2 linked regions of the Homo sapiens genome follow. The protein of the gene in region 2 purifies or fractionates together with the protein of the main gene of each other region. This does not show direct contact. Each region holds a gene or a part of one and is shown on either strand. Other genes may lie near its edges.

What was found.
Region 1: the proteins of FOXR1 (region 2) and MRGBP purify together in Homo sapiens (affinity purification with mass spectrometry; 4 studies listed by BioGRID and IntAct, with this or other methods). This does not show direct contact.

The regions. Positions count from the first base shown.
Region 1 is NC_000020.11:62,792,640-62,799,494, reverse strand, and holds the start of MRGBP (MRG/MORF4L-binding protein), read right to left. Parts: upstream 3,023-6,855; 5' UTR 2,972-3,022; coding exon 2,824-2,971; intron 2,386-2,823; coding exon 2,264-2,385; intron 909-2,263; coding exon 827-908; intron 643-826; exon of another isoform or gene 521-642; coding exon 446-520; intron 40-445; coding exon 1-39.
Region 2 is NC_000011.10:118,974,742-118,981,763, reverse strand, and holds the end of FOXR1 (forkhead box protein R1), read right to left. Parts: intron 2,983-7,022; coding exon 2,908-2,982; intron 2,808-2,907; coding exon 2,560-2,807; intron 2,323-2,559; coding exon 2,096-2,322; intron 1,275-2,095; coding exon 1,036-1,274; coding exon of another isoform or gene 992-1,035; exon of another isoform or gene 908-991; intron 557-907; coding exon 528-556; 3' UTR 477-527; downstream 1-476. UniProt on the Homo sapiens protein: Transcription factor which acts as both an activator and a repressor.

The sequences.
Region 1 (6,855 bases), on a different chromosome or scaffold from region 2:
TTTCTGATGCTTTCCCCAAACTCCCTGAAGATGAAAAAACTGAGAAACGAAAAATCACTTGGCTGAAAACAGAATATCCAGAATCTTATTTTTGTCTTCCTGTTCAGTTAAAAAAATCTGCATACTGACACGTGACCCTCTGAACCCAAAGCTTCCTCCTGAGCTGGGAGCCCCTTGCATTTGGGCCCACAGAGGGGCCTGGTCCTCCTGAGGACCTGCCTGCGGCGGGCACTGCAGGGACCGCCGCTCAGACCCTGGCCTACAACATGGAGCAGGCACTCAGCTCCTGGGGAGGGGGCACTGCAGGATCCATCCTGTGCCTAGATGACCTGCCTGGGGCCTCTGCACCGCAGGCTCTACGCCCACCTGACTGTGCCCTGCCTGAAGGCAGTCTTGGGGTGCTGAGCCCCAAAGGGCATCAGGGCAGGGTGAGCTCCACACTCACCATCGTCAGCCCCATTGTGGGGGTCCACGTCTTCCTTCATCTCCTCTTTCATCTCCTCTTCTATCATCACTTTTCCTGTGGAGGAGACAGCTGACGCTCACCGAAAACCCACGGTGGTGGCCGACGCTGGGGGATGGTCAGGCCAGGGACTGCTCCGACGCTTGCTGCCCACACAGGCCTCAGCTTCCGTCCAGCCACTGCTCTCAAACAAAGTCCTCTCCAATCCCGGAGGTTCCAAGACCACCCAAGCACAGGTAGGGCGGGGTCTGCGCTGGACCCTCACACCTCCCTGGAGGCCCGGGGTCCTCACCCTCACCTCCCTGCCCTTGGCCAGGGTCTGGCCTTTTCTGAATCCCAAGCCCAACCTTTCCCGAGCCTCACCTTCTCGGACCTCCTGAATGATCTCTTCTGGAAGGACGAAGTTCCTCTCTGGATTCGGGAATGGAAGAATCTCAGACTCATGCTGATATCAAATAGAGAGTTTTGTTTAAGAAACAAGGGTGAAGATGCAGTTTCAAGAAGTCACTAGAGCCGTGTAAGAGCCACTTGGGGAGAGGCCAATGAGCACACATCACTGTGTTGGAGGCTGCGGCGGGCGGGGCAAGGGCAAAGGGCATTTCTTCTTTTTGTGAACAGCGCCTGCCACAGCTGGGCTTTCCAGACAGACCCAGGGAGGGCAGAACCAGCGGCAGCAGATGCAGGAGTCAGGAAGACCCACCGGGGCCAGCATCACTAAGGCGGGCCCTGAGGACCGGGCAGCCCTGGTGACACACACCTGTGGGCTCCGCCTGCCCAGCACGGCCTGCAGTCTCACCATGAGACTGCGTTCCCCAAGGCGGCATGCAGAGGGCACAGTGACAGCCCTGGGGAAAGGCCGCAGGCACCTCGAGTTCTCATCCACGTGGCAGGAGCCCATGGACACCGAGGGTGTCGGTTGGGAGCGCCACAGGCACAGAACCAGGCAAAGAAGAAGAGAGTGCTTGCCAGGCACTGCCCTCCTGAGGTCGCACAGACCAGAGGGAGAGACCTATGTCATACTGATGGCCGGTGTGGCCCTGAGTCCAACGTGGCTGGCACAGACTCTCCACCAGCACAGGTCCCCACTCCTCCTGGTCACCTGACCCCTGACCCCCACCCCACTCTCCAAGTACACCACCTTCTTTGAGCTCCTGGACCCACCACCTCCTGCTGCCACAGGGCCTGGAACACCCACCTGTCTCTTCTGGCCACCCTGCTTACCTAGTTAACCCGCTCGCCCGTCACACAGTGCCAGCTCCAAGCTCTGCGAGGACTGGAACTCTACTTGTCTGACTCCCACAGAAGTCACCAAATTCACCTTGGTGTGACTCAGATAGGGTCACCCTCTGCCTAAAGCACTTCGGGGGCCTCCCAGGAGGCTGACAATGGCCTAAGGGCCCGGGACTCTGCATCCTTCCCTCCCTCCCCAGGGTCTCAGCTGGAGACTCTGGCCCAGCACCCAGTCTAAAGCAGAGCCCCTGAAAAGCTAGCCAGCTGCTAGCACTGTGTTTGTGCTTTCCATGACAGGCTCTGGAGCCCCGGGATGTCCTCCTTAAGGACGAGCCTCACTGCAGGGGTCTCTGCCCAGGGGACCCCAGCAGGCACGGAGGGGCCTCTGCCCAGCTCAGGCTGACCCTGAGAGCTCACTGCAGACCCCAGCAGGCATGGAGGGGCCTCTACTCTGCCCAGCAGACCCCAGCAGACATGGAGGGGCCTCTGCCCAGCTCAGGCTGACTCTCAGAGAGCGGTGTGCGGGTTCGTGCCCCCATCGGGCGGCACAGGGAGGGCGGTTGGGCTCACCAGCGCCTGCATGTCGTACATGGTGCTCAGATGGTCCCAGATGACCTTGGATGGGACCTGCCGCCCGATGTTCTGGCTGAACTTGTCCCGAATACAAATCATGTGGAAGTGTCGGTTCACACCTGAGGGGAGGAGGGGCGGCGGGATAACCGGTGAGCGGTGAGGAGAAAGGGGATGGAGGGGACGGGCTGCCCTGGGGACTGGAGGGGCAAGGGTGGCTGCGGAGAGATGGGGAGGGCCAGGGTGTGGAGGGGCTGTGGGGGGGCAGGGCTGGGTGGTGTGTGTGGGAGGGGGTGGGCTGTCCCGGGGCGGGGGTGGGGGTGGGGCACTGCGGGCTGGGACCTCGCGGTCTCACGGGGGTAGGGGTCGTGGGCGGGGTCCGGGGCGGGGTCCGAAGGGCGCGTGGGAGGGGGCGGGGGTCCCGGGACGGGTGTGGCGGCGGTGTCACGGCCCGGGCTCGGCGGGGAGCGTGGGGGCGAGGGTGTCGCGAGCGCAGGCCCCGCCCCGCCCCGCCGGTTGCCCGCCCCGCCCCCACGCGCGTCCGCAGCCTGGGCGCTCACCGACGGGCTTGTGGCCCAGCATGGCGTGGAAGAGGCACACCTCCACCTCGGGGCTCCACACCACTGTCTCCTCCGCCGGGCTGGTGGCCGCCTCCCCCGGGCCCTTGTCGCCTGCGGCGCCCCCGCCGCCCACCTCGGCCTCTCCCATGGCCGCGGCCCGGCCGAGCAAGGAGCCCCCGGCGGGAGCAGGCGCGGCCACGAGCTCCGCGCAGGCGCACTCGGGGGCGGGCGCGCGCTCCGCCGGGTACGCGCTCGGGCTCACGCGCCGGCGTCGGCGCAGGCGCAGCCGAGGTCTCGGGTCCCTTCCCGCCGGGGACTCCGCCCTGCTCCGCCCCGCGCGGGGGTTCTTAAAACGTGTTCCTCTTTAAAGCACAGTAAGAAATACACTGCACCCAAACAAAAAAGTCTGTGCTTCAAAGGAAACCATCAGAAAAGTGAAAAGACGACCCACAGATGAGAGAAAATATTTGCAAATCCTATATCTGATAATGAACTTCCTTGTAGAAGGTATAAATAATTCTTATAACTCGATAATAAAAAGACAATCTAACTATAAAACGGCTAAGGATTTGGATACACATTTTTCCAAAGAAGATGTACAGATGGGCCGGGCGCGGTGGCTCACGCCTGTAATCCCAGCACTTTGGGGGGCCGAGGCGGGCGGATCACCTGAGGTCAGGAGTTCGAGACAAGCCTGGCCAACATCGTATAACCCCGTCTCTACTAAAAATACAAAAAAAGTAGCCGGGCGTAGTGGCGGGCGCCTGTAATCCCAGTTACTCGGGAGGCTGAGGCAGGAGAATCGCTTGAACCCGGGAGGCAGTGAGCCGAGATCGCGCCATTGCAATCCAGCCTGGGCAACAAGAGCGAAACTCCGACTCGAAAAAAAAAAAAAGATGTACAGATATGGCTAATGAGCACCATCGGTCACGCGAAACTAGAATCAGCCCGCGTGGGGACCCCCTGCCCCGCCGAGACCGCCACAACCACGCGGCCGGGGTGACGAGTGCTGCGAGGGTCAGGGCTCGGGACCCTCGTGCGGTCGTGCTGTGCGGTCAGATGGGCCGCTGCTGCGAAAGACAGTCTGGCCGTTCCTTCAACGATGGAACCGTCTCCCTAGGAAGCAGCAGCTCCGTGGCGGGCGCCCGCGGCAGTGGAACAAGACACAGGTTCAGGCTGGGACCCGCAGCCGCGAGGCAAGCGCCGCCCCCAACCCGGGGCTGAACCTGCGAGGGGCGCCCGGAGCGCGGGCACCCGCACGGCGCAGCCGCGTTCAGCCTAAAAGCAGCGAGCGCGGACTGCGGCAGCGTGGGTGCGGGCTGAGACGAAAGTCAGAGAATTCAGACACGAAAATACACAGCATGGGAATCCATTCACAGGAAGAGCCAGAACTGGCAACTCCATAGGAATAGAAAGTAGATGCACGGTTGCCGGGGACGGGGGAGGGGGAGGGAAACGCGAGTCACTGCGGATGGGGACCGGCTTCTTTTTTGTTTGTTTTTGAGGCAGAGTCTCGCTCTGTTGCCCGGGCTGGGGTGCAATGGCACGATCTCGCCTCACTGCAACCTCTGCCTCTTGGGTTCAAGCGATTCTACTGCCTCAGACTCCCGGGTAGCTGGGACTACAGGCGCTCACCACGGCCGGCTAATTTTTGTATTTTTAGTAGAGACGCGGTTTCACTATGTTGGCCAGGCTGGTCTCGAACTCTTGACCTCAGGTGATCCTTCCTCCTCGGCCTCTCAAAGTGCTGGGATTACAGGCTTGAGCCACCGCGCCCGGCCGGGCCCAGCTTCATTTTAAGGAGGTGAAATGCTCTGGAATTAGATAGTGGCCACGGTTGCTCGCAACAAAACCCCACCGAATCGTGCGCTTTAAGCGGGTGAACTTAACGGTCTCAATAAAGATGTTAAGGAAAAAACAAAACCAGAAACCCCACAATTACTGCAGGCATAGGGCTCGCTGCCCGGGTCTGGGTGCGGGACGGAGGGGCTCACGCCCGCCCCCAGAGTCCAGCGCCTGCTGGGAGAAAGGGCAAGTAGGGGGTCCGGCCCTGCCGGCCTTGACCGCCTGCCTCCGACTCCCGGCCGCCGCGCAGCCCAAGCTCTGGGGAAGCGTTAACCGCGGGTCGCTGCGGAGGCCCCACCGCGGGGCGGGGCCGGGGCCGGACGGTGAAGAGGGGGCGAGATCAGGGCGGGGCCTAGGCTGGGGCCGGGCGGGGAAGCGCTCGGGAGGGCGGCTCGGGGGCGGGTCAGGGGCGGGGCCGCCAGGTCAAAACGCATCCATGACGAGCTTAAGGCGGCCTCCAATCAAGGCCGCCGCGGCCTCCGGCTCCGCCCGCTCCGCCTCTGCCTCCGCCTCCGCCTCCGCCCTGCCCTCACGGGCTTCTCTCCGCCCCATTCCCTCTCGGCCACGCCCACCACGGCCCACTGGCCAGGGAGCCGCTACGCAGATGTTTTCGCCTCTGCGGGTGTAGGCTCCGGGTCGGGCTTCCGGGTCCCTTTCCTGGCTCTGGCGCCTTCCAGCTGTGTGACCGGGCGAGGCCCTGAGCCTCTTGAGGGTTCAGTGCCCTCCTCCGTACAATGGGCCAACAACAGCCCCTTCCCTGGGGATCTCGGTGAGGGTTGGTTGCTCTGCAGGGTGCCCTGGGCCTGTGCCAGCGCGCTCAGGCATCCTGGTGACCAACCACAGCTGGCACTGGTGAACGCAGCCTCTTAGCCCAGGCAGGCTCTGGTCAGCCTCACCTGCTGGGACCGCTGAGTGGTCCAAGAGCTGGCTTGGCTGACTGGGACCTGGGCCTCAGCTTCCCCATCTGTGCAGGGGGCCGCTGGTGATACCGGTCCCTGCCATGCCCTGGTGGAGATATGGCCCAGTGAGACTTCGTGAGGGGTCTAGGCCACTGCTGTCACGTGGTACGTCTTCTACCCTGGCCCCTAGGTGGCCCTGGCCTCAGCCTTGCTCTAAAGAGGAATGAAGCCCAGCCCACAGCCCCTTAGCACAGATACGCTCGGGAGACGGGACCCTCACCGTTACTCATCTCCTTACTGTTCCCTGGACACCTTGGGGTCCCTGCGCCTCTCCACCCGTCCCTGCCAGGTACTCTCCTCCTTCAGTCTGGAGCGCCTCCTCCCTTGGGGGTCCCCTGTGCCTATTGAGAAAAGATGGCATAAAAGCGTGAGACAGGAGCCCGGACCAGGAGACCCGAGGGTGCTGAGCCCCACATTGGGCCGGGTCCACATGGAGACACACGCTTGGCTCATCCCAGCCGGGGCTGTCTGCCTGCTCCAGTGGGAACCTGGGCAGGGGTACTGTCTCCAGGGCTCTATGCTGGGCGGTCGTCATGAAATACCTGCTTTCCCCACACGCCCCCTCCTTTCTGAGGCAGGTGCCGCTGTCACGCCTGCTTTGAGGGGAGGAGTCAGAGATGAGTAGAGTGGGGAACTGCCTGGGTTGAGGGCAGAGCCGGGAATCAACCCTCAGAAGCCTGGCTCCAGCCGACCCCTGACCAACCTCCCTTCTTGGCCTGCTCTAGTCCCTGTGGACCCTCACCTGGGCTCCCCTTGCAAATCACCCTGCAGCCCCCTGGGGTGCAAATGCCTGCCCCCACCCCTTTGCCTGTCTCTCTCCTGCGCAGCCTTCACTCTCAGCTCCAAGGTCACCGCCCCAGCTGTGAGGGTCCCATTTGGTCTCTGTGGCCACACACCTGTGTTTCTCACTCAATAAGTGCTTTGTGGGATACACTTTGCACACTTGTCATTGTGAATCACGGATGATAATTTGTTCAACGTGTGCCTCCCCTGCCAGGCTATCAGCTGGCTCCAGGGGGCCAGGGCTGGGAATGGCGTGGCACCACTGTCCCCCACCTCTCAGGCAAGGCCAACACACAGCAGGTGGACAGTGACCATTTGTGGACTGGCTACACAACCTACTGACCCATTCCCTCCCTTACGGGGATGGAATGAATGATCCTCACTCTTTGATCCCTGTTGCTCAAATTTCCTTCAAAAGATGGATGTGGCTTCCCAAATATCTTGA
Region 2 (7,022 bases):
ACAGTAGCCACTTAAGGAGTATCAATTGAATGAATGTGTGGTGCTTACAGAATTGGCTGCTACAAACGGGCATCTCCCAGAATAATTTTTACAGATGGAGTCTTGCTGTTGCCCAGGCTAAAGTGCAGTGGTGTGATCATGGCCGACTGCAGCCTTGACCTCCTGTGCTCAAGGGATCCTCCTGCCTCAGCCTCCCAAAGTGCTGGATTACAGGTGTGAGCCACTGCATCCAGCCAAGATTATCTTCATAATCCAGAAAAATGGAAATTGCTCCAAGATGCTTTAGAAGGCTGTGCATTTTCCTCCTTTGAGGAAAGAAAATTACGGACTCCCTTTGCTGCACGGCAGGCACCTGCCCCATTGCCTCAGGAGCATCTGTAAGCTGAAGGCATTCCATCTCCAACCTTGGAGTTGATCTCCACCTCCACCCTTAACCCCATCCTTAGAGACCCCACCTCCACAGACACACACAGAAGGCTAGTGAGGGTAATTTTAATAAAGCATTAGCTGGCTGTTGCTTCTTGGGGTTAAAGATCAAAGAGGAAGGGCATCACATCTGTAAGAAAAGGAGAGAGTTCAGGAGTTTATACTTCACAATTGCTGTTTCCTAGGCCTGGGATGCTCTCTCATAGCAGGTCATCTGCTTCTTTCACTCAAGGCTCAAATGCTGCCTCTTCTCTGAAGCCTCCCTGCACTGCTCCAGGGAAAGTAGAAGTACTCTTTGTACATAACCTCTATTAACTGTGCTTCTCATGTTGTGTGCTCACTATTGCCTAGACTGCTGGTCTTGGTAAGGCCAGTTGCCCCTTAGTTGTTTGCCCATGGATTCCTGGCACATCACGCCCCACACTGGTGGGGGAGGTCTCACCTCAGGCAGGCATCACCTGAGGGTCTCAGATCACTGTTAATCTCCCTGTTTCCTATAGAAGATGCATTCCCCCACCCCCACGGTGTGACCCAGGCTTCCACACTTGGCCTTGGGTCAGGATCCTCAGGTCTCTTCCCCTTGGGCCCACGCACAACAAGTCTTCACACCTGGCTGGCTCATGCACTGTTGGATACTTTCTAGCCGAGTGGAAGCCAAGGCGCGGGCCTCCTCCGCAAAGCGGCGGTGTCCCTCCTCGGTCAACTTCCAGAGGCAAGATCGAGGCCGTGTGCTGGCCCCGCCCTGCATGCTGACAGGCACTTTCTCAAAGCTGTCTCGAAAACAGAGATTGTGACGGACAGTATTCTTCCAGCCTTCCGGGGCCGTCCGGAAAAAGGGGAAGTGCTTTCTATGGACAGGGAGGAGAGGTAAGGAAAGGCATGTTATGTCTGGGGAATGCCCTTCTCTGGGGCATGTTCTACCCAGGGGCCAGGGGCTTTAGCCCTTCTCTCCAGGGGGATAGTAGCAAGTTGGCCTGGAGTTGCTCTTTGCTAACTGAGCACGTGGCAAAGCATCCACGTGGTGCGTGGCTCACCTGAACCCTCCCTCCCTCTGAGGGCCCAGGGCTTGGACCACAGCATGAACAAAGCAGAATCAGGCCAAGCAGCTCCTGTAAGAGGAATCTTGGTTGAGGACGGACACCACTTGAAAATTCCTGTCCTGAGACATTAGGCACTTCTCCTAACACTGGGAAAGGGCCCAAGAAACTCCCTTCCTCACCCTCCTGTGAGCAGGACTATCTGAGCTAAATGGAAAATCCTTCTCAACTGGGTTCTCTGCACCCCTGGGGGTGCAGGGAGCTGTGCCAGGCAGTCCAGTCCTAGCAGAAGCAGGTGGGAACCGTTGGGGAAACCTGACTTTAGACTGGCTGATCTTCAGAGGATGGTGGGGAAACTGTTACCTGACCCAAGTGAATGTATGTTTTAAAGGAGAACTATACCCAAAGAACACTGAAAACTTGTTAAAAAGAAAAAAAAAACTAAAGCCATAAAATGTGGGCACAATGTGGGCACAAATGCACCTGGGAAAAGGGAACTGGGAACATACTTGTCCTCTCAGACCCAGATAGGGAAACCAGGTCAGCAACCCAGGGCCTGGGATGGATTGGAAGGCATCAGCCCGGGGCCCTGGCCCCCACTTCCCCCTCCTCGCAGGGCCCCCGGCACATACCGAGTGAAACTGTAGATCTGTTGCACGTTGAGGCCACAGGGGGAACTGTTTCTTAATGCCAGGGCAATTAGGTGGAAGTAATTGAGAGGGGGCCGGGACCAGAGCCTCCCCGCCTGGCTGCTGGCTTGCCGAAGCCTCCGACTCTGGAGGGGGGCCCTTTTGTGAGGGGATGGGAGAGCCATAGAGGAGCTGTCTTCCTGGTCCTCAGCCTCCTCCTCTTCTGTGAGCTAGAGGAGCACAGAGTAGGAACTGGTCCTGACTCCTCAGCCTCTACTCCAGGGTGCAGTGGCAGGAAGGGGGGGTGGTCTAAGGCCACCATTTGGGCTTCTCCCCAACCCAAGCATGTAGGTAATTTCTGAACCCATTCACCTTTTGCTATGGCTAAGAGAGCAGAACTGTAATGGCTCTTCCCCATGCCCCTCGCCTACTGCCCAAGTCCCACTCCCATCCCCAAAAATGCATACCTCCCAGGTGCTGGGGGAAAAGGCAAACCGCTTCCGAGGGGGAGACCGCTTGCTGGAGGACTGGGACAGTGATTCCACCCCTGCGGCCTCTGAGCAGCTGGCATCTTCCTCCTTCTGGGGTGGCTGAGAGGAGGGGAGTGTGCTTGTCAGGTCCTCCCTCTTCCTACGTCCTGAGACCTCCAGCTTTCCAGGGGGATACACAATGTTGGGATTTACCCACATCCAGAGGTTGGGCTCATAATCTGGACCTGTGCAGAACAAAAGATTGTGTGCCACAGCCCACTGGCTTTGGGTGCCCCTGGTCTCCAGCCCAGGCCACAGAAACAGGTCAGAGAACTCAATACGTACCATCCTTATCAGGGTTGGGTTTTTTCTCTAGGGGTAATTTTGGTGGCTTAACAATTCGGAGTTTATACCTGGCAACTGGCAAAAAGAAAGACAGAGAGAGTCAAAACATCCTAGAATATCCCTTTGTGACCCTAGGATCCTAGGCCTTAAGGCTTCTCTGGGAGAAGGTTGTGGGCCCTGCCTTGGGAGTTAACATCACATTCTACTTCTACGGGTTTTCCCTTTACCTCTCTGACCTTCTCATTCCCCTCTGCATTCTTTTCTTCTCACTCTACGTATACTATCCCTGAATGATCTCATGCATGTCCGTGGCTTCAGTTAACATCTATAAAAAAATGTAGAGCTCTCAAATCTTCACCTCTAGCCTAGCATTCTGTGCTAGCCCTTAAGGAGAACTACCTACTGGATGTCTTTACTTGGGTAGCCCACAGGCACTTCAAACGCACTTCTAAAACTGAATTCCATCTTCTTGCTCTTCCTCCTGTATTCTTGTATTTTTTTTGAGACAGGGTCTTGCTCTGTTGCACAGGCTGGAGTGCAGTGGTGTGCTCAAGAGATTCTCCCACCTCAGTCTCCCAGGTAGCTGGAACTACAGGTACATGCCACTGCACCCCACTAATTTTTGTATTTTTTTTTTTTCAGATGGAGTCTCGCTCTGTCGCCCAGGCTGGAGTGTAGTGGCGCGATCTTGGCTCACTGCAACCTCTGCCTCCCAGGTTCAAGTGATTCTCCTGCCTCAGCCTCCCAAGAAGCTGGGACTACAAGCGCACGCCACCACACCCGGCTAATTTTTGTATTTTTTAGTAGAGACGTGGTTTCACCATATTGGCCAGGCTGGTGTCGAACTCCTGACTCATGATCTGCCTGCCTCACCCTCCCAAAGTGCTGGGATTACAGGCTTGAGCCACCGCGCCCAGCCCAATTTTTGTATTTTTTGTATAGATGAGGGTCTATGTTGCCTGGGCTGGTCTCGAACCCCTGGGTTCAAGCAATCCTCCTGCTTCGGGCTCCCAAAGTGTTGGGATTACGGGCGTGAGCTACCATGCCTGGCCTTCCTGTATTCTTTGTCTTAGCAAGTGGCACCACCATTAATGGTTGTTCAGGACAAAAACTATTTTTGCCCCCTCACTGTCCCTATGAGTGTCATTATATTACAGATGAATCTAGGCTTTTGTTTGAGAAATGATATACTTATCGGAGAGCTCAGTAATTAGAGAGGATGCCTATTATGTTGCTAATATTCAACATAGTATTCAAAAAAGGAAAAAGTAGCAAAAGATAGAAAAATTGGGGTTTTTTTGGAGACAGGGTCTTGCTTGGTTGCCCATGCTGGAGTGCAGTGGTGTGACACCGGCTCACTGCAATCTCCACCTCCCAACTCAAGCAATCTTCCCATCTCAGCTCTTAAATAAAGAACTTAAAATACTTGAACAAAGACTTATAATACATACTATTAAGATGCCAGTTACCCTCAAAATGAATCTGTAAGTTTTATGCACATATTATAGCACAAAAATTAAAGTTTGGCCAGGTGCGGTGGCCCACACCTGTAATCCCAGCACTTTGGGAGGCCGAGGCAGGTGGATCACTTGAGGTCAGGAGTTTGAGACCAGCCTGGCCAACAAGGTGAAACCCCATCTCTACTAAAAGTACAAAAAATTAGCCGGGCTTGGTGGTGTGTACCTGTAGTCCCAGCTACTTGGGAGGCTGAGGCAGGAGAATCACTTGAACCTGGGAGGCAGAAGTTGCAGTGAGCTGAGATCGTGCCACTACACTCCAGCCTAGGTGACACAGCAAGACTCTGTCTCAAAAAAAAGTTCTAACATAGTAAAAATCACCATAAGCAAAAAACAAATAGACAAACAAACAAAATAGCAAAACTTCAATCCAAATTTCTCAGTTCTCTGATACATAGAGAGCTCCTACAAATCAATATGTAAAAGGTCAACACAAACTTAGAAATGGACAAATGATATGAATCAGCATTCACAAGGAGGGGATAACTGAATGGCTAACGAGATGATCAGCATTATTAATAATACGAAAAACACTGTAAGATAATGAGATAATCAAATTGACTGGAATTATAAAGATAATACCAAGTGTTGAGAAACATGCAAAGAGACAGAATCTCTTATTTTACTGCAGTTCTGTGTATCAACTGGAGCAGCCCTTGTTAAGAGCAATCAGGCAGGACCACAATTTACTCGACCTTACTGTCTGCTCCTGGATGTATATATTCAAGTTAATACAGGAACTTATATACTAATCAATCTCCATTGTTACTACCATCTACTGACCTCCTGGTTTAGCTGTCACTCTCCAACACTACTCCTGCCTTAAATCTTGGCTGCTGGCCAGGTGCAGCGGCTCATGCCTGTAATCCCAGCACTTTAAGAGGCTTAGGCAGGCGGATTGCTTGGGCCCAGGAGTTTGAAATCAGCCTGGGCAACATGGTGAAACCCCATCTCTATAAAAAATACAAAGATAATAATCTAGCCGAGTGTGGTGGCGTGAGCCTGTAGTCCCAGCTACTCAGGAGGCTGAAGTGGGAGGATGGCTTGAGCGGGAAAAGGGAGGTTGCAGTGAGCCAAGCTTACGCTATTGCACTCCAGCTTGGGCAACAAAGCCAGACCTTGCTTCAAAAACAAAAACATGATCTTTGCTATTTATTGAACTCTTCTCCAGCGAGTTTGACTTCTACTCTACTGTGGACACTCCCTCAGGCATAACCTAAACCAACAACTGCAACCTCTCCGTAACCTCATTTATGCACCACATAAAAACGCACCACCTCGTGTCTTTCTGGCTAACTCCCTCAACCCCAACTATGATCCCACTGAGGTCACCAGTCCACTGAATTATGGTTTTGGCGCACTCGTTTGGCAGAGGTGGATTTAGTCAGGGTTGTGGTTTGGCCAACAAAGTGCTCCAAAGCCACAGATGATCCAGGGAACCTGCGTAATATCTGACCATGGGATTCAAGTTAGTTAAATAAGGGTGGACATATCAAGTGATTGAAACAGTGAAAAGGTGATAGGATCAATGGACTGGTGATCTCATTGCGACCCAAGGATAGCACCTTTGTATGTCTGTGTCTCTCTTTGGCACAGATCCCCCATGCTTTTTCAAGGATGTTGTTCCACAAATCTTCCCCTCTCTTTCCTGTGTCACTAATTTTTTGTCTTTGTTGGGTCATTCTCATCAGCATGCAAACATGCTGTTAATTCTCCCATTTTAGGGACCAGGTGCAGTGGCTCATGCTTGTAATCTCAGCCTGCTTTGGAAAGCTGAGGCAGGAGGATCACTTGAGCCGAGGAGTTCAAGGCTGCTCAAGGCTGCTCAAGGCTGCTCAAGACTGCAGTGAGCTGTGCTGGTGCCACTGCAGTCCAGCCTGGGCACCAGATAGAGACCCTGTCTCTAAAAAAAAAAAAAAGAAGAAAGAAAAAGAAAAAGATTATCCCATCTTATTTCCTGTTGAGGCATAACACATTGCCTCTACTTCCCCTCCTTCTACTCTTAAACCCCCTTCAGTCAGGTTTTTTGTTCTACCACTTACTAAAACCACTAACCAGGGACCTCTGCTTTGTTAAGTCCAATCATCACTTACATTCCACTCATCCAACCCCTCCCTCCTTGAAAGGCTTTTTCCACTTGGTTTCCAGGATACCACAGACGCCCTAGTTTTGATTCTCAATAGTCTTTTTTGCTAGTTATCTCTCTTCTCTCCAATCTCTTTACAATGGACTGCCCCCAGGGCTCATTCTTGTTCCTCCTCTATTCTTACTCCTTAAGTTCCACCCATATACCAAAAGACCCAAAATTTACATCTGCAGTCCCCACTTCTCTCCAGAACTCCAGGCTCATGTATCCAACTGCAGACTCAATGCTTCTACTTGGATGTCTAAGGATCTCCAGCTCAGCATATCCAGAACAGAATTCCTGATCTTCCTTCCTAAACCTGTCTCCCACTCAGTACAAGGCAACTCTATCCTTCCACTAGGTCAAAACACTTTGAAGGCTCATACTCAATTGTCTGTCTTATACGCCATATCCAATCCATCAGCATAGCCAGCTGGTTCTCCCTGCTACTACCCTGGCCCAATCTACCATCA